Linked DNA regions of Homo sapiens: region 1 is linked to region 2. Evidence: fine-mapped expression QTL. A gene starts in region 2. The other region holds a variant in brackets. All regions are shown on one strand. Distances are from middle to middle. Region 1 overlaps LOC124902693. Region 2 holds the start of CCDC85B (coiled-coil domain containing 85B).

Region 1 (8,323 bases), 83 kb before region 2:
TGAGGTTGGGAGTTCGAGACCAGACTGACCAACATGGAGAAACCTCATCTCTACTAAAAATACAAAAAATTAGCTGGGCGTGGTGGCATATGCCTGTAATCCCAGCTATTTGGGAGGCTAAGGCAGGAGAATTGCCTTAACCCGGGAGGCAGAGGTTGCGGTGAGCCGAGATCGCACCATTGCGCTCCAGCCTGGGCAATGAGAGCGAAACTCCGTCTCAAGAAAGAAAGAAAAGAAAGAGAGAGAGAAAGGACGAAGGAAGGAAGGAAGGAAGGAGGGAGGGAGGGAGGGAGGCAGGCAGGCAGGCAGGCGTGGTGGCTCACGCCTGTAATCCCAGCACTTTGGGAGGCAGAGGTGGGCAGATCACTTGAGCCCAGGAGTTCGAGACCAGCCTGGGCAACATGGCAAAACCCTGTCTCTACTAAAAAAAAAAAAACACAAAAAATTAGCCGGGCATGGTGGTGCGCACCTCTAATCCCAGCTACTCAGGAGGCTAAGGCATGAGAATTGCTTGAACCCAAGAGGTGCATGTTGCAGTGAGCCAAGATTGCACCACTGCACTCCACCTGGGCAACAGAGCAAAAAATAAAAATATAAAAAATAAAATATGTACCATGGGAAGCTGGCAAACAGTATGGATTATTCATAAAACAGCTTCAAATGATAACAATTATATGAAAAAAATTCAACTTCATTCATAATCCAAGGAATAAAAATGAAAATTAGGTATCTGTTACCTATAAGCAAGTCTATCAAGGCCCAGTGTGGTGGCTCACGCTTGTAATCCTAGCACTTTGGGAGGCTGAGGCGGGCGGATTGCTTGAGGCCAGGAGTTCAAGACCAACCTGGCCAACATGGTGAGACCTCCATCTCTAAAAAAAAAAAAAAAAAAAAAAAAGAGGCTGGGTGTGGTGGCTTGTGCCTGTAATCCCAGCACTTTGGGAGGCTGAGGTGGGCAGATCACCAGGTCAGGAGTTTAAGACCAGCCTGACCAATGTGGTGAAACCCCGTCTCTACTAAAAATACAAAAATTAGCCAGGTGTGGTGGCACGTGCCTACAATCCCAACTACTCAGGAGGCTGAGGCAGGAGACTAGCTTGAACCTGGGAGGCAGAGGTTGCAATGAGCCGAGATCATGCCATTGCACTCCAGCCTGGGCGACAGAGCAAGACTCTAGCTCAAAAAAAAAAAAAAAAAAAAAGCCTATCATAAAACTAGTTATAATATTGAAAAAGTAGAAACAATCTAAATATTTAACCTGAGTACATTAAAAATTATAATTAAGTAAGCTGTGTGTGGTGGCTCACACTTGTAATCCCAGCACTCTGGGAGGGCAAGGCAGGCGGATTACTTGAGGTCAGGAGTTCAAGATCAGCCTGGCCAACATGGTGAAACCCCGTCTCTACCAAAAAATACAAAAAAAATTAGCCGGGCGTGGTAGCGTGCTCCTGTAGTCCCAGCTACTTGGGAAACTGAGGCACAAGAATTGCTTGAACCTGGGAGACGGAGATTGCAGTGAGCTGAGATCACACCACTGTACCCTGTAGCCTGGACAACAGAGTGAGACCCTGTCTCAAAAAAAGAAAAACTATAATGAAATATGTGTATCTCTTAAATATGATGGCAAAAAATATTTCAGGAAAATGCTTACAATATATTAAATTTAAAAGCAGGTTCCAAAACAGTATTATGGGGTAGGCACCCTTGTCATTTTTATAAACGTAAGTCAGTCCATATGTCTGTAGTAAAAATCATGGAAGTAAAAATCTTAAATTCTTGTTCAATGGCAGAATTATGACTTTTATTTTCTTTTTTCTATATTTCGTACTTTTTTCTACAATATTCCCATATTGCTTTTGTAGTGAAATCTTCTTGATGATTTTGAAAGAGTCCTTCAGGAAGGCAATGTTGGAATAATTGGCTGCAAAAGGATGTTCTTCATTGAACAGTGAAAATTCTTGCCAATTTAGGCCGGCCGCGGTGGCTCACGCCTGTAATCCCAGCACTTTGGGAGGCCGAAGCGGGTGGATCACTTGAGGTCAGGAGTTTGAGACCAGCCTGGCCAACATGGCGAAACCCCATCTCTACTAAAAATACAAAAAAATTAGCAGGGCTTGCTGGCGGGCGCCTGTAATCCCAGCTACTCAGGAGGCTGAGGCAGGAGAATCGCTTGAACCTGGGAGGCAGAGGTTGCAGTGAGCCGAGATTGCGCCACCGCCCTCCAGCCTGGGTGACAGAGTGAGACCATGTCTCAAAAAAAAAAAAAAAAAAAAAACATTGCCCATTTGATGGTTATAGAAATGGGCTGGGATGGCAATGGGTGGGAGGAAGGCCGAGGGAATAAACTGCTCCAGATCCAGGAATCCTGATTTTTGATGTTACCATGAAATCTAAATGTGTAGAAAGCACAAAGAATCTGGAGTCCCCGGACACACAGTTTGAATCCTACAGCTGCTTTGAGGAAGATGCCTTAGCTTTCTGAGACTGACTGTTCATAAAGTGGAAGTAAGAGCAATGTAGGATGATGGTGAAGATTAAGATAATGAGTTGCTTTGTGAAGCAGAAAGCTCTAAACAAATGCTGGATGCAGCAGATAATAACATCCATGTCTGGTTTAGCTTCGGTAAGATGGGCGGTGGCTGCTGTAGTTGAATTTGCCCTGACTGCTGAGAACGCTGGGCACGTTGCAGCTGAGAGACAATTTTCCCATAGGGTACAGGCAAACTCTTGGATTTTCCGGTCCACAGTAATACAGAATATAAAAATAAACTAGCTGGGCACGGCGGCTCATGCCTGTAATCCCAGCAACTCGGGAGGCTGAGGCAGGAGGATCACATGAGCTCAGGAGTTTCAGACCAACATTGTGAGATCCCGTTTCTGCAAAATATTTAAAAATTAGCCAGATACAGTGGCAGGGCCTATAGTCCCAGCTACTTGGGAGGCTGAGGTGGGAGGATCACTCGAGCCCAGGAGTTTGAGGTTATAGTGAGCTATGATGACACCACAGCATTCCAGCCTGTGTGAACAGAACGAGACTCTGTCCCAGAATTTTTTTTTTTTTTTTTTTTTTTTTTTTTTGTGAGAGAGTCCTACACTGTTGCCCAGGCTGGAGTGCAGTGGCAGGATCTCGGTTCACTGCAACCTCTGCCTCCCAGGTTCAAGCAACTCTCCTGCCTCAGCCTCCCGAGTAGCTGGGATTACAGGCATGCGCAACCACGCCCGGGTAATTTTTTTTGTATTTTTTAGAGATGGGGTTTCACCATATTGGCCAGGCTGGTCTTGAACTCCTGACCTTGTGATCCGCCCACCTCAGCCTCTCAAAGTGCTGGGATTACAGGCGTGAGCCACTGCACCCGGCCTAAAAAAATTTATTTTAATTTAAAAAATTAAGTAAAAATAAACTTATTCTGAGTTCAGAGGAAGGTGTTTGGTGACCTGCTGACTACCCTTTCAGGAGTGAATATACGGCCCCTGATGAGAACCCCTGGTTAGTCGTGTGCTGAGCACTGGGAAGGAGAGAAAACGGCACAAAATGGAGACACCTGTGACCTCCTTCACCTATACCTGCTTACTGATGTTTTGGCGAAATGCTTGGGGGCTGAGTTGGGTGGACCGAGGATGCCAGAGCTTGTCATCTAAGGAGGCTGGGAGAGGCTGGGTGGTGGTTCCGGTTAGATGGGTCTCCACCCTGCACGAGATAGATGGGCAGGCTCATGAATCATGAGCCCCTCGTGTTCATAACTGATTAGCTAGTTTGTTGCGGCGCCACTCTTGACTTTCCCACAATATGGGCCCTGACATCCTCAGAGGGTACCACGTTCTTCAGTCCACCCAGATGAAATGGATTTACAAATCCAATGATGAGCTTTCTGAGTACTGACTGTGTTTGGAGACTCGTTCTTGACTGTGCCACTCCAAGTCCTTCAAATGAAAGACAATGTTCACCCTTTTTTTCCTTCCTTTTCTGCTCCTTCTAGGATACCCCTCGCCACGTTTTCTGTTTTACCTCCTTTTCTTTCAAGGAATCATTTTAATTGCTCTTCCTCTCCTTGTTCCTCAGTTTCCCTCACCTTCTCCTCATGTCCTCCTCTCTCTGCCTCTGGATCTAGCCAGCGTCTTCCTCTGTGCTCTTCATGTCACAGGCACCTGCCACCAGGAGCCACCGATGCCAGGCTGTCCTGAGCTAACGCACAGGGAGGACTGTATGACGAGGGAGTGCAGACGGCAAGACAGCCACTCAACAGCAGAATGGGGGCTGCCCTTGCCGCCCAGGCCACCCAGGCTGTGGCTCCTGAGCTGCGTGGTCCTCCCTTCATCACTCGCCCCCTCTCTGAATTCTCCCACAGCCTTTTACAATCTTTTCAAACAGCTTTTCTCCCCATACTCCTGCCAGCCCTCCTCCCCTGCCCTCCCTCCGAAGGAGCCCTTGGATTTATCCACACCTGCTGGTGCCAACATGCCCCAGACTGAACGCGCCACTCCAGGTGTGGTTTTGCCTGGTGAATGGAGAGGCACGGGGCGGCTCTGTGTCCAGAGGTGGGAGAGGCCGTCCAGGGCCAGCCTTGCACCTGGGTTCAGCCAGCGCAGCTGCCCCCAACCATGCCAGGCCGCTCTGTTGATCCCCGCTATCGAGCGGAGCGTCAGGACAGGAGCTTTTGCTGTCTCCTTCCTGCCTCAGAACCCCACCCACTATGT[T/C]TTTTCTCATCTGAATCTCAGTTCGAAATCTCCAGCCCAAGGGGTTTCCCAACACCTCCTAGTTTTGAATCAACCTGCTGATGCCAGCATTCCCAGATGAGGAATAGAGATGTGAGGTGGGACCTGGCCTGGCACTGCGTGGTGAAGACACTCCTGTACCCGCAACGGTCATCCAACTGGTGGCATCTGGACAAACAAACCCAGTCCCCTCCTTAGCTTCCATGAAGGAAAAAAACAAGTGGGTACAAGCTGAGGACACGGCTGGGAGTGGAACTGTAGGAACAAGGACTGGCCAGATGGCGACACCAAGGCGGCCATGCTCCTACCCTGAAGCCGCAGCTGCAGGTCTGGTCTGCACCAGGTGGTCCTCTCCGGCAACCAAAGAATTCTCTGCCCCCAACAGTGCCTCGGTGGAAACCATGCCCAGTCTCTCTCGGGGTCACCCCACAGGAATATGCCTTTTAGTCCCCCACCTATGGCTTCATGGGGAAGACTTCTGGCAGCAGAGGCCCGGGCATGGCAGCAGGAAACAGAGAACTGGGTCAGTCTTCTTCTTTGTCCTACTGTGGCCTCGGGGTCTGGTCATTCTCCGAATGGGGCTGAAGGACAGCAATAGGGCCAGAACGGCAATCTGGGTCTGTGCATCATGTTCTAGCCAACAAAACATCCCACCTTGGATTTTATTTTTTAAATCTATTCAAAGCTTCGGTTCCGCATCCAATTCCCAGAGAGGCCATCCCCTTGTCCAAATGGGCAGAGTGGCATGCCAGCACTGAGCCACCTCTGGAGGGGGCTGGCCACCTCTGGATGGGTCGGCACCCTCTCACAGGGGTGAACACTGCAGACTGGAACTGAGCTTCTCTCTGCTCCTCTGATTTGAGGAGAGAGCACACCTGATACCACAGCAAGCACTTGTTCTTGGCACTTGGTGTCACTCTTGCTTCATCTTGGCTCAGCTTAAACCCTTCAACTGAATGGTGGCGATCACCACAGAGGAGAACTCTCTTCTTCCCCCTCCGTGCCACATGCACACACATGCACACTCACACACACGCACACAATTGTACACACATGCACACTCACATACGTGCACAATTATACACACACGCAATCACACACACATGCACTCACATGCACACACGTAGACACACGCACAATTGCACACACATGCACACGTGCACTCACGCGTACACACTCGCACACACATGCACACTCGCACACACGTTGAGACGTGCACTCACGTATACACTCCCACACACGTTCAGACGTGCACTCACGTGCACACTCGCAAACACGCACACTCACACATGCACACTCACACACATGCACACTCACATGCCCGCCAGGGCAGGAGCCTGGCTCTCCAGGAGGCAGGGCAAGTGTCCAGACAGAAGGATGAGAGCCATGTTGTGGCACAGGAGGGCCCCATGGTGGATGATGGGGAGGAAGGGCCATGTGGACAGGCAGGGGTGGGGTTGGGAGGGGCTCCTCATCTTTCCTGAGCAGGGCCCGGGTGGAACCAAGTCTCCTGGAATTGTTCATTGTTGACTTCACCAACATATTCTTAAAACTTGAAATTGCTCAGAAGATAATCTAACAGCACAAACATGCACACATAAACAGTAAGAGTCCCTTGGCATCAAACTGGCAAACTGTGGTGGCAGAAACACAGGAAGGATCCACTCCCGGTGTGAGGCTTGCTGTCCCTCCCTCTTCAATGCGCTGGCTACCAAGCCTTTGCCAATCCCCAGTGCAGCAGTTCACAGACTTTTTACTGCTAAGAACGGCTTTTGGCAACCCCAAAAATGTGATGTGCCCTTTCGGTGGGTAGAATTAATTGGCGTAATAGAACGTGTCCTCCTCTCAGGCCTCAGCACTGCTGCTGCATCTTCGCAGCCTCTCTCAGCCTCGGTTCTGCCACCTTTCCTCACTCATACAACAACAGGCTCCTCCTATCGAGGAGGTAATGAGCTCCCACTGGACTTTGGGGTCCTCTAGAGTCACCTGCAAACTCCACTCCTCCCTCCCAACGTCGTCTCTAGAAGATTCCTTTGTCCTCGAGGCTCTCCTTTCAGTGAAGGACCCTCATGAGGACACAGTGCCTCCTCTGGGACACACAGCCATAATACTCTTGTCATAAGAAATCCAACTCCTTGACCGGGCTTGGTGGCTCACGCCTGTAATCCCAGCACTTTGGGAGGCCAAGGCAGGTGGATCACCTGAGGTCAAGAGTTCGAGACCAGCCTGACCAACATGGTGAAACCCCATCTCTACTAAAAATACAAAAATTAGCTGGGCGTGGTGGTGCGTGCCTGTAATCCCAGCTACTCGGGCGGCTGAGGCAGAAGAATCACTTGAACCCGGGAGGTGGAGGTTGCAGTGAGCAGAGATCATACCACTGCCCTCCAGCCTGGGCGACAGAGCAAGACTCTGTCGAAAAAGAAAAAGAAAAAAGAAAAGAAAAGAAAGAAATCCAACTCCTCTGCTACCCATGAGGGAAGGTGGCTCAGGATGAAAGGGAAGTTTGACAATCCCTAAATATCACAGGCTTAAGAAGAGCCATTACCCAAGAAGTCGTGTGGAAAGAGCTGCCGGCCTCAGCCACAGCTGTCCTCTACCCACACTGCCGCCTGCCGCAGGCCACAGCACCGTCAGCCGAAAAAGCCCACTGATATCTGGGTTACAGGGCTTGAGGCTGCCTTGATTTCTGGCTAACAGCTGGGCCGTCCTCGGCAAGAGCTCTCCTGGGAACGGGTTGGGGAGATTCCCCGTGCCCTGTCATTCTGATGTCTCCCTGCACAAGGGAGCGGGTTAACCATGTCCTTGCCACCTCATCTTCGAAAACAACTCATAAAAGCGCATCAGAGGAAACAGTCTTTTCATCCCACCTATCATTAGTTCCCAGAACAGGGGCTGGAAGTAGGCAGCCTCCCTGGGAGTTTGCGGGATGAGGCAACACCGGCGCCTGAGCTACCATTTAGCCTATTTCTAGAGATAAGCCTGTTGATGTCAAAGTAAGGAATGACCAACTCCAGCCAACAGCGCCCTGTGGGACTGGGTCTGTGACATCTCCTTTCTCCCAGGCACCATCCCCAGGGCAGGAGACAGGAACCCTAGATCGTGGGGGTTTGTGAACTGACCTAGGTAAATAATAACAAGTTGGGCTGCACTCTCCTTGAGGTAATTCAAAGTACTTTATCACCATTACCTCACTGATCTTAACTAACATCCAAGGAAGGAAGGAAAGAAAAAAGGCAGAAGCTTTCTCATTTCCTAAAACAAAAGTGAATGGGGGCTGGGTGCGGTGGCTCACACCTGCGATCCCAGCACTTTGGGAGGCCAAGGCAGGTGGATCAGCTGACGTCAGGAGTTCGACACCAGCCTGACCAATATGATGAAATCCCGTCTCTGCTAAAAATACGAAAACTTAGTCGGGTGTGGTGGTGGGCACATGTAATTCCAGCTACCCAGGAGGCTGAGACAGGAGAATCGCTTGAACCTGGGAAGCAGAGGTTGCATTGAGCCAAGATCTCACCACTGCACTCCAGCCTGGGCAACAGAGCAAGACTCCATCTCAAAAAAAAAAAAAAAAAAAAAAAAGTGAATGGGGAGTGGGAGCTTTTAGGTG
Region 2 (8,323 bases):
ACGCCTGTAATGTCAGCACTTTGGGAGGCCGAGGCGGATGATCACTTGAGGCCAGGAGTTCAAGACAAGCCTGGCCAACATGGTGAAACCCTGTCTCTACTAACAATACAAAAATTAGCTGGGTGTGGGAGCGGGCGCCTGTAATCTCAGCTACTGCAGAGGCTGAGGCACAAGAATTACCTGAACCCAGGAGGCGGAGGTTGCAGTGAGCTGAGGTCGCGCCACTGCACTCCAGCTTGGGCCACAGAGCAAGACTCCATCTCGAAAAAAAAAAAAAAAAAGGAGGGGAAAGGGGAAGGGAGGAGAAGACTAGGTATGAAGCTGCTGCCACAATCAGAGGCTGGAACTGGGCCAGTGGCCAAAGGGAGGGAGTGAAGTGTAGATGGGATGCTGTGTCCGTGTGGATGCAGTGCATACCTGTCTCCGGCAGCTCTTGAGGGTGATGCCTGTTTTGGTGCTGATGTCATCCAGGTCTTTCTTGGTGCCTTTGGACAGCTTCTTGCCCAGCACCTCCCGAACAAAGGCCTCATCAAAGGCATAGTACCTTGTGGAGTCAGAGAACACCATTGACCCTCCATAAAAGACAGGAAAGGGAGTCTGGCGGGGCCTAGCAGGGCCTAGGTCTGACCCCTTCCACTCTCAACTTTCTGATGGCTGGGTAAATCCCATCCCTCCCTGGGCCTGTTTCAGCCGGCAAAATGGGTATACAGTCAGACTGGTTGATGTCTCCACCATCCCAGAGGGTGAGCACCTCTCGATGAGTAGTGCCTGCCGGGAGGGCGGAATCTGGAAGATGAGCTGGTGCAGTAGCTTGGGCGGCGCATGCAGCAGCCGCTCGAGCATGTGGAAGGTGCGGTAATGGTCCATGGTGTCGCTCTGCAGCACCGCTGCCGTGGCGCCAGTCTGCTCCAGGATTCCCGAGCGCACCCGCAGGGCCACCGCGTCGGTCACTGGAAAGCGGACGCTAGCATCAGGCCCCGCCCCGCCGACGCCAGAGGCCCTTAAGGGTTTCCATCCCAGACCCCTATAACACCTCTTATTCCCAGGCGCTCGCCCACTTCCCTAAAGGATGCCCAAGTCTTAGCCCCGCCCCCTCTCCCATTCAACACAACCGCTCCGCCGACTGGCTTCCCCACACGCCCCTCACGGACCCGAGTAACCATCGAGCCAGAGGCGATACACGTCCTCGTCGATAAGGGTCGTGTTCCCCACGAAGATGTCCAGCTCACTGGTCATGGCGACGCCCGGGGCCGCAGCGCCCCGAGCAGGAGCGAGCACTGCTCGGGACTGGCGCGCCGCCTTCAGGCCACTTCCGGGAGCGCCGAGATTCCGCTCGCGGCATCGGGACCCAGCTTATGACCACTTCCGGGACACAGCCAGTCGGGGAGGGGACGGGGCGGGAGCGGCGAGGGAAGAGAGGGGGAGGCCTGCGCGGAGGAGCACCGCTTCCTCCCGCCGGGAGGGGGAGTCCCGGGCTCCTGCGTCCTGTCTCCCTCCCCGGCCGTCTGCAGGAGCACGAAGGGAGTGCCTCCTCTTCGTCTCCTCGGTCCCCGTAACTTCTCCCCTCACTTCCTCCTGGCTTTTCTCCCACCTTCTCTGCCCTCTTCGGGACCTCCTAAGTTTGACCTGTATCCTAAACTTAGGGGTTTCACAGGGCTCTATCCTAAATCTCCGCAAAAATGGGGTATGACCCGACTTCCTCGGGCTCTTGCTGGAGACTGGTTTGTCCATCCTGCGCATGAGCACCTCTCCTGGGTTTGGGGCACCTGCTCCCACCTTGGTTTTAATCCCACCCCCAGCCCCACGAGCTACTGACGTCTCTAATTCTGCCCCTCCGAGCTCTGCCTGGAAGTCCACATCCGGAGGGGCCGCCTATCGGCCAAGTCTATCCACACTCTTCCCGTAAGCCCCTCAAAAGCTCAACATATTCTAGACAGACCTCTGCCTCTCCCCATTTGTTTCTTTCCTGCGTCCCTATCTCAGTGACAGCCCTAACATCCACCAGTTCTCATACGAGAAACCTGGGCGTTCTTCCAGACTCCTCTCTCCCCACATTCAGTTCGGCTGATTTGCCTCCCGAATATTTCTAGTATCTGTTTGTCCTCTCCACCCCCACTGATGCTGCCCCAGCCGTCTTTCTGCTTAGCTCTCCTTGCTCTTGCTCTTTGACACCGTTACTAATCTCCCTGTTTATGTCCCCTCCCCGCAGGGTCCGGCCCACACAGATCAGCCCAATCTTTTTAAATACATTTTTTTTTTCGAGACAGCGTCTCGCTCTGTCGCCCAGGCTGGAGTGCAGTGGCGCGATCTCGGCTCACTGCAACCTCCGCCTCCCGGGTTCAAGCAGTTCTCTGCCTCAGCCTCCCGAGTAGCTGAGATTACAGGCTCCTCCCACCACGCCCGGCTAATTTTTGTATTTTTAGTAGAAACGGGGTTTCACCATCTTGGCCAGTTAAAGGCATATTTTAAAATGTTACTCCCTTGCTTAACATCCTTACAAATGTTACTCTCTTGCTTAACATCCTTAGTGGCCTTTGGAAATGCTCCAACCTGGTACTGGAAGTTCTTAAGAATCTGGCTTTTACCTACCTTTGAAGCCTCGCTCTCTCTCTCTTAGCATTTTCTCGACACATCTGCTTTTCAAAAACCAAGCTATCCTCATTGTTCCTAAAGCAGCTAGGCTCTTTCGGGCACCAGTGTCTTTCACTATGTTATTCTCTCTCCCTGAAATAGCTCTTTACTTGGCAAAGTCCTATGGATCTACCAGAGCCTCTTGGATAGCATCTCTTTTGGGAACCCTCTTAAGGACCCTCAGACCATACTCCTCCCGGATTTATTTCTTGCTTAACACAGCTTGACTTCCCGGACAGACTGCGACCTCCTTGAGGATGGAATCGGTATTTTGGTTAAATTTATTTCTGCATGGGCCTTGCACATAAAAAACGTTTATTGAACAAACGAATCCTGTATGTTCCTCCCCCCAGGCAGGAAACGCTCCCTGGGAGGGAGGGTAGTCTATTGGTGAGCTAGGACGTTTGGACTCAGGGTTCCGAGGAACCAGGAGCGATCCTTAGTGGGCCGAGACTTCCGAATTTGATCAAAGGTAAAGAGGGACTGGAGAGCGGTCCATCTGACTTCTGTGGGGGATGGGCAGGAGTCAGGGGCGGACGCCTGAATCTTGTTTCTCAGAAGAGCCGAGAGGCCTAGGCTCAAGCTTGGGGCGATCCGGTACTTGGAGGTTCGAAGCTCCTAGTTTCGGGTTGAGACCGATGTGGAGGGCGATGACGCGCGGGTTCCTTGACATCGAGGATCAGTAACACCCGGAGTGGGTGGGGAACGAGGGGGGCGGCCCCTGAGCTCAGGCCCCGCCCCTTTCCGGGGACGTTTCACCGGATTGGCTGTCCTTCCATAACGACATGCGGCCCCGCCCCGGCGCGCGCCCCGCCGCGTGCCCAGCCCGGGTAGCTGCTGCAGCCTACGCTGCCTCGGCCACTGCCTGCCGCGTGCGGAGCCGGAGCCCGAGCCTGAGTGGCGCCGGGCCCGACGTGGGGCTCCTGGGCCGCGGCGGCGGGCGGGCGATGCTCCAGAGGCCTGACCAGCCATGGAGGCCGAGGCAGGCGGCCTGGAGGAGCTGACGGACGAGGAGATGGCGGCGCTAGGCAAGGAAGAGCTAGTGCGGCGCCTGCGGCGGGAGGAGGCGGCGCGCCTGGCGGCACTGGTGCAGCGCGGCCGCCTCATGCAGGAGGTGAATCGGCAGCTGCAGGGCCACCTGGGCGAGATCCGCGAGCTCAAGCAGCTCAACCGGCGTCTGCAGGCAGAGAACCGTGAGCTGCGCGACCTCTGCTGCTTCCTGGACTCGGAGCGCCAGCGCGGGCGGCGCGCCGCACGCCAGTGGCAGCTCTTCGGGACCCAAGCATCCCGGGCCGTGCGCGAGGACCTGGGCGGCTGTTGGCAGAAGCTGGCCGAGCTGGAGGGCCGCCAGGAGGAGCTGCTGCGGGAGAACCTAGCGCTTAAGGAGCTCTGCCTGGCGCTGGGCGAAGAATGGGGCCCCCGCGGCGGCCCCAGCGGCGCCGGGGGATCAGGAGCCGGGCCAGCACCCGAGCTTGCCTTGCCCCCGTGCGGGCCCCGCGACCTAGGCGATGGAAGCTCCAGCACTGGCAGCGTGGGCAGTCCGGATCAGTTGCCCCTGGCCTGTTCCCCCGATGATTGAAGGCACTGCTTCCTCCACGCCGACGCCCGCCCGGATTGCTCCCCGAGCCCCGGGACCGCTGTGGACCTCGGGACCTGGACGCCGTCCTGGCTGCGCAGGAGGGGCCGCTGGCATGGACTAAGAAATCCTGACACCAAGAAGGGCCCCTCGCTCTTGCTGGCAGGGCAGCAGGGGGACTGAAGGCTGGAGCGGAGGGACTTGCTGGGGGTTGGATTGGGGGTAATAAACCCGGACGGAAGCGGAGCCCACGGCCTGGGCAGCGTCTGTTTGGTACTCGCCGGGGTTGGGGCGAGGGTGGGGTGCTGATACAGGGTACAATTCCCATCCAGAAGGACTGCAGAACTAATGATTCCCCCATTACTTCGAGCCTGGGGTGGGATGCGGGGCAGTGGTAAACCAGACTTCCCCCATCGGGCGCCGGGACCGGCCTTAATCCAGCCCCTGAAGTGGCTCCAGCTCCCTTCCCGGCTCCTTCCTGTCCAAGACAATGGGGCAGGAAGCAGGTGCTGGGGGCCTAGAACCACTCGGCCGCCTCCTCTGAGGCTGGAAGGGGGCATAACAGCGCCCCTCCGTGGCACACGCAGCAGCACTGTGGGCCCCCACGGGGAGAGGGGCGGTAAGCCTCTTCGCTTTTACCCCAGAGGACTGTCTCCCCTCAGTCCCGGAGATGAGGCCGAGCGGATGTAGCCCCACTTGTCAGATAAGACAAAGTCCAAAAATATCAAAGAATTTGTCCAAGGTCATGCAGTGAGTCTGTAGAGCTAAGGCTGGGACCTAGGGCTCCAAATACTCTCCCATTGGCCTCTGGGTCCAGTGAGGCACTCAGGCCACAGCTTCAAGCCTTTTATTCCATTTTGGTAGGTTTGTATAAAAATACTCTCTTTAGGAAAATAAATAGCAGCTGCCCTCGCTGTGGAGGCTTGGATTCCCTGGAGCTGAAGGCTTCTCAAAGCTGAGATCCGCAGATCAGCTCATCACAGAAGCCAAGGGCGCCTCCTGAGCTGTGCGGTTCAGGAGGGGGCGGCAGAATGGCCTGGTCCAATCACCTGCTGCTGCTGGCAGTGGGGCTGGTGAGTTAGTGTTCTAGGTGGGTAAAGTGGCACCTTCTGTCAGGAGATAGGGTTGGGTGGATCACAGGAAGAGGGTGATGGAGAGTGTGGCAGTGATCTGGAAGGGGTTAGGGCTCCAGAGGACCTCTAAGGATCTACAAAGTCTCTGGGCTGCCAGGATTCCTCTGGCACAAATGGGAAATATTTTGTCTCTGATTTAGTGCAAATTGTGCTAGAGAGGCCAGCTCAAGAGAAACAGTGGGCAGCTTTGGTGGCCCCAAGCTGGCTCTACTGTGAAGCACAATATGGTCAGTCTCATTAGAGGGATGGAGAAGAAGTTGCTGGAGTTGGATGTGGGATACTGTCCAGGCCAGCTGGACCGGTGGGGGAAGGGGAGGAGACATTGGCTAGGGTGGCATCTGCAGGGAGTAGGGCTCAGGCGCCTCACAAAGCGAGGAGGGTTGGAGAGCCAAGGGGGTCAGAGGATGGGTCTCCGCTGCTGCTGCTACTCTTGCGATGAGCTGAGGCACAAGGCTCAGGAGTGCTGGGGTAGGTGAAGACCAGGCTGGGGGTGAAAGGAGTTAGGGAGGGTGTGGTCATGAGTGTGGGGGTGTGCAGTGCCTCAGGTTCAAGCACAGGCCCTGGGGAAAGGGAGATACAAGGTACAGGGCGGCAGGGGGCTGGTGGGCTGCTGGTGCCACTGGTACTGCCTGTGTCCCCCTCCTTGGCTCCTTCCGGGATTTTGCAGATGGGTCGGTGGGCTTCCAGCACCAGCTCTAGGCGCTCCTTCTGCTTCTGCAGCTCCTCAATCTCTCGCTGCAGCCCAGATTTCTCATCTTCCAGTTTGTCAGTCTCCTGTAGAAGATCAGGAGAGGAGTCAGAAAGGTGAGGGCTGAATACCCCAGAGCCGCAGACGTTTGGACTCAGGGTTCTGAGGAGCTGGGGTTGGGCGGGGGGAGAGGGGGGGCAGTGGAGAGTCCCCAGCAAGTCTGGACTACAACTCCCATAAGCCCCTGGGAGAAAATGGGCACAACTCCCATCAGGCCCAGACGTTTTAGGAGATTGCTGGCACCAGGCAGTGACTCCGGCCTGTAATCCCAGCACTTTGGGAGGCTGAGGCGGGCGGATCACTTGAGACCAGGAGTTTGAGACCAGCCTGGCTAACTTGGCGAAACCCCGTCTCTACTAAAAATACAAAAATTAGTCGGGTAGGGAGGCAGGCGCCTGTAGCCCCAGGTACTCAGCAGGCTGAGGCATAAGAATTGCTGGAGCCTGGGAGACAGATGTCACAGTGAGCCATGAGCCGAGATCTCATCACTGCACTCCAGCCTGGGTGACAGAGCGAGACTCTGTCTCAAAAAAAAAAGGAGATTGCTGGCTGAGCTTCAGCTCTGCTGTGAGTGAGACATGCTGCAGCCAGTTTCTAATCAATTTTTCCTCATCATTTTCCCAGAAGGACTGCCCCTCAGACAAGGAGCTAGGATGGTGAGGAGGGGGCTACATATACTGGGGCTCTGGGGGCTCTGGGAGACAGGGTCCCTCTGAGCTCGGTGGACCAGGGCTGGTGCTCACCGCCTGCAGGAAGTCGGTCAGTTCCTTCCTCCGGTTCCTGCACTTGGCCGCAGCCAGCTTGTTCCGCTCGCGCCTTACTCGGCGGCGCTCCTCTTCCTCCGGGCTGATCTGGGGGTGAGACCCGCAGTGAGGAGGACCCTGGGCTACTGGCTGCCTGGAACTCGCCCCTCATGGTGGCCCAGTGGTAGGACCCTGGCAGAGGTCATGGCAGGGCCCCCTCAGCCGGTGATTTAGGGATCACTGCACCCAACCAGTTCCCTGCACTGAGGCGCTGTCTGCTTTGATTGGTAAAATTTCCTCCTCGCACCTAGCTTTAGTGCACATTCCTCTCCCATAATGCCCTCCCCCTCCGCAAACCCTAACCCTCCTCATCTCCCAGGACTCAACTAAGATGCTCCTGCCTCCAGGAAGCCGTCTTATTCCCCAGCCAGAAGTGACCTTTCCTTCTCAGCACCCTCTTTGCAGGACCCTCATCCTTCTGGATCTGTGGACAACCAAGTCTCCTCTTCCATGAGCTGTAAGCACTAGGAGGGGCTAATGAGTGCTGCTGATTAAGTTGCAATTTATTGGAAAACTACTATGTGCCAGCCAAGTACTTTACGTAGATTCTTGTTTTTCACTGAGAACATGCAAAGATTTTATTTTATTTTATTTTATTTTTTTTAGACAGAGTCTCACTCTTTCCCAGGCTGGAGTGCATTGGCCCAATCTTGGCTCACTGCAACCTCCACCTACTGGGTTCAAGTGATTCTCGTGCCTCAGCCTCCCAAGTAGCTGGGATTACAGGCATGTACCACCACACCTGGCTAATTTTTGTATTTTTAGTAGAGACGAGGTTTCACCATGTTGGCCAGGCTGGTCTTGAACTCTTAACCTCAGGTGATCCACCCTCCTCAGCCTCCCAAAGTGCTGGGATTACAGGCATGAGCCACTGTGCTCGGCCTTTTTTTTTCTTTTTTTTTTTTGTGTAGTGACGGGGTCTCACTGTGTTGCCCAGGCTGGTCTGGAACTCATGGGCTCAAGGGATCCTCCTGCACTGGCCTCCTAGAATGTTTGGATTACCAGGGGGAGTCACCACAGCTGGCCTCTTTTTTAAAAAAACATAGATTCTTTTTTTTTTTTTTTTTTGAGACGGAGTCTCACTCTGTTGCCCAGGCTGGAGTGCAGTGGTGCCATCTCGGCTCACTGCAAGCTCCGCCTCCGGGGTTCACGCCATTCTCCTGCCTCAGCCTCCCGAGTAGCTGCGACTACAGGTGCCTTCCACCACGCCCAGCTAATTTTTTGTATTTTTTAGTAGAGACACGGTTTCATCATGTTAGCCAGGATGGTCTCGATCTCCTGACCTCATGATCCACCTTCCTTGGCCTCCCAAAGTGCTGGGATTACAGGCGTGAGCCACCATGCCTGGCCTTAAACTAGATTCTTAACGCAACTTTCCATGAAAAACTGAAGCCCAGAGAGGATAACTTACTTATGGTTCCAGAGCAGGACT

What was found. PIP is the estimated chance that this variant, and not a neighbour inherited with it, causes the effect.
Region 1: its variant is fine-mapped to the expression of CCDC85B in whole blood (INTERVAL, PIP above 0.99).

What each region holds. Positions count from the first base shown.
Region 1 is chr11:65,804,637-65,812,959 of GRCh38, forward strand. All of the region lies in intron 3 of LOC124902693, which reads right to left. Among named protein-coding and RNA genes, the nearest start is that of OVOL1-AS1, 18 kb to the left of the region's middle. The variant T/C (reference allele first, on the strand shown) is at 4,696.
Region 2 is chr11:65,887,183-65,895,505 of GRCh38, forward strand. CCDC85B (coiled-coil domain containing 85B) reads left to right here and starts at 3,491. Exons shown (of 1, transcript NM_006848.3): 1 at 3,491-4,453. The coding sequence starts at 3,602. The coding sequence ends at 4,210. FIBP (FGF1 intracellular binding protein) reads right to left here and starts at 1,289. Exons shown (of 10, transcript NM_004214.5): 1 at 1,152-1,289; 2 at 752-950; 3 at 418-544. The coding sequence starts at 1,236. It overlaps FOSL1 (FOS like 1, AP-1 transcription factor subunit), which reads right to left. Exons shown (of 4, transcript NM_005438.5): 3 at 6,832-6,939; 4 at 4,867-6,114. The coding sequence ends at 5,704. RefSeq lists enhancers at 1,190-1,259, 4,902-4,951, 4,992-5,151, 6,436-6,940, 7,043-7,152 and silencers at 1,380-1,519, 3,282-3,761.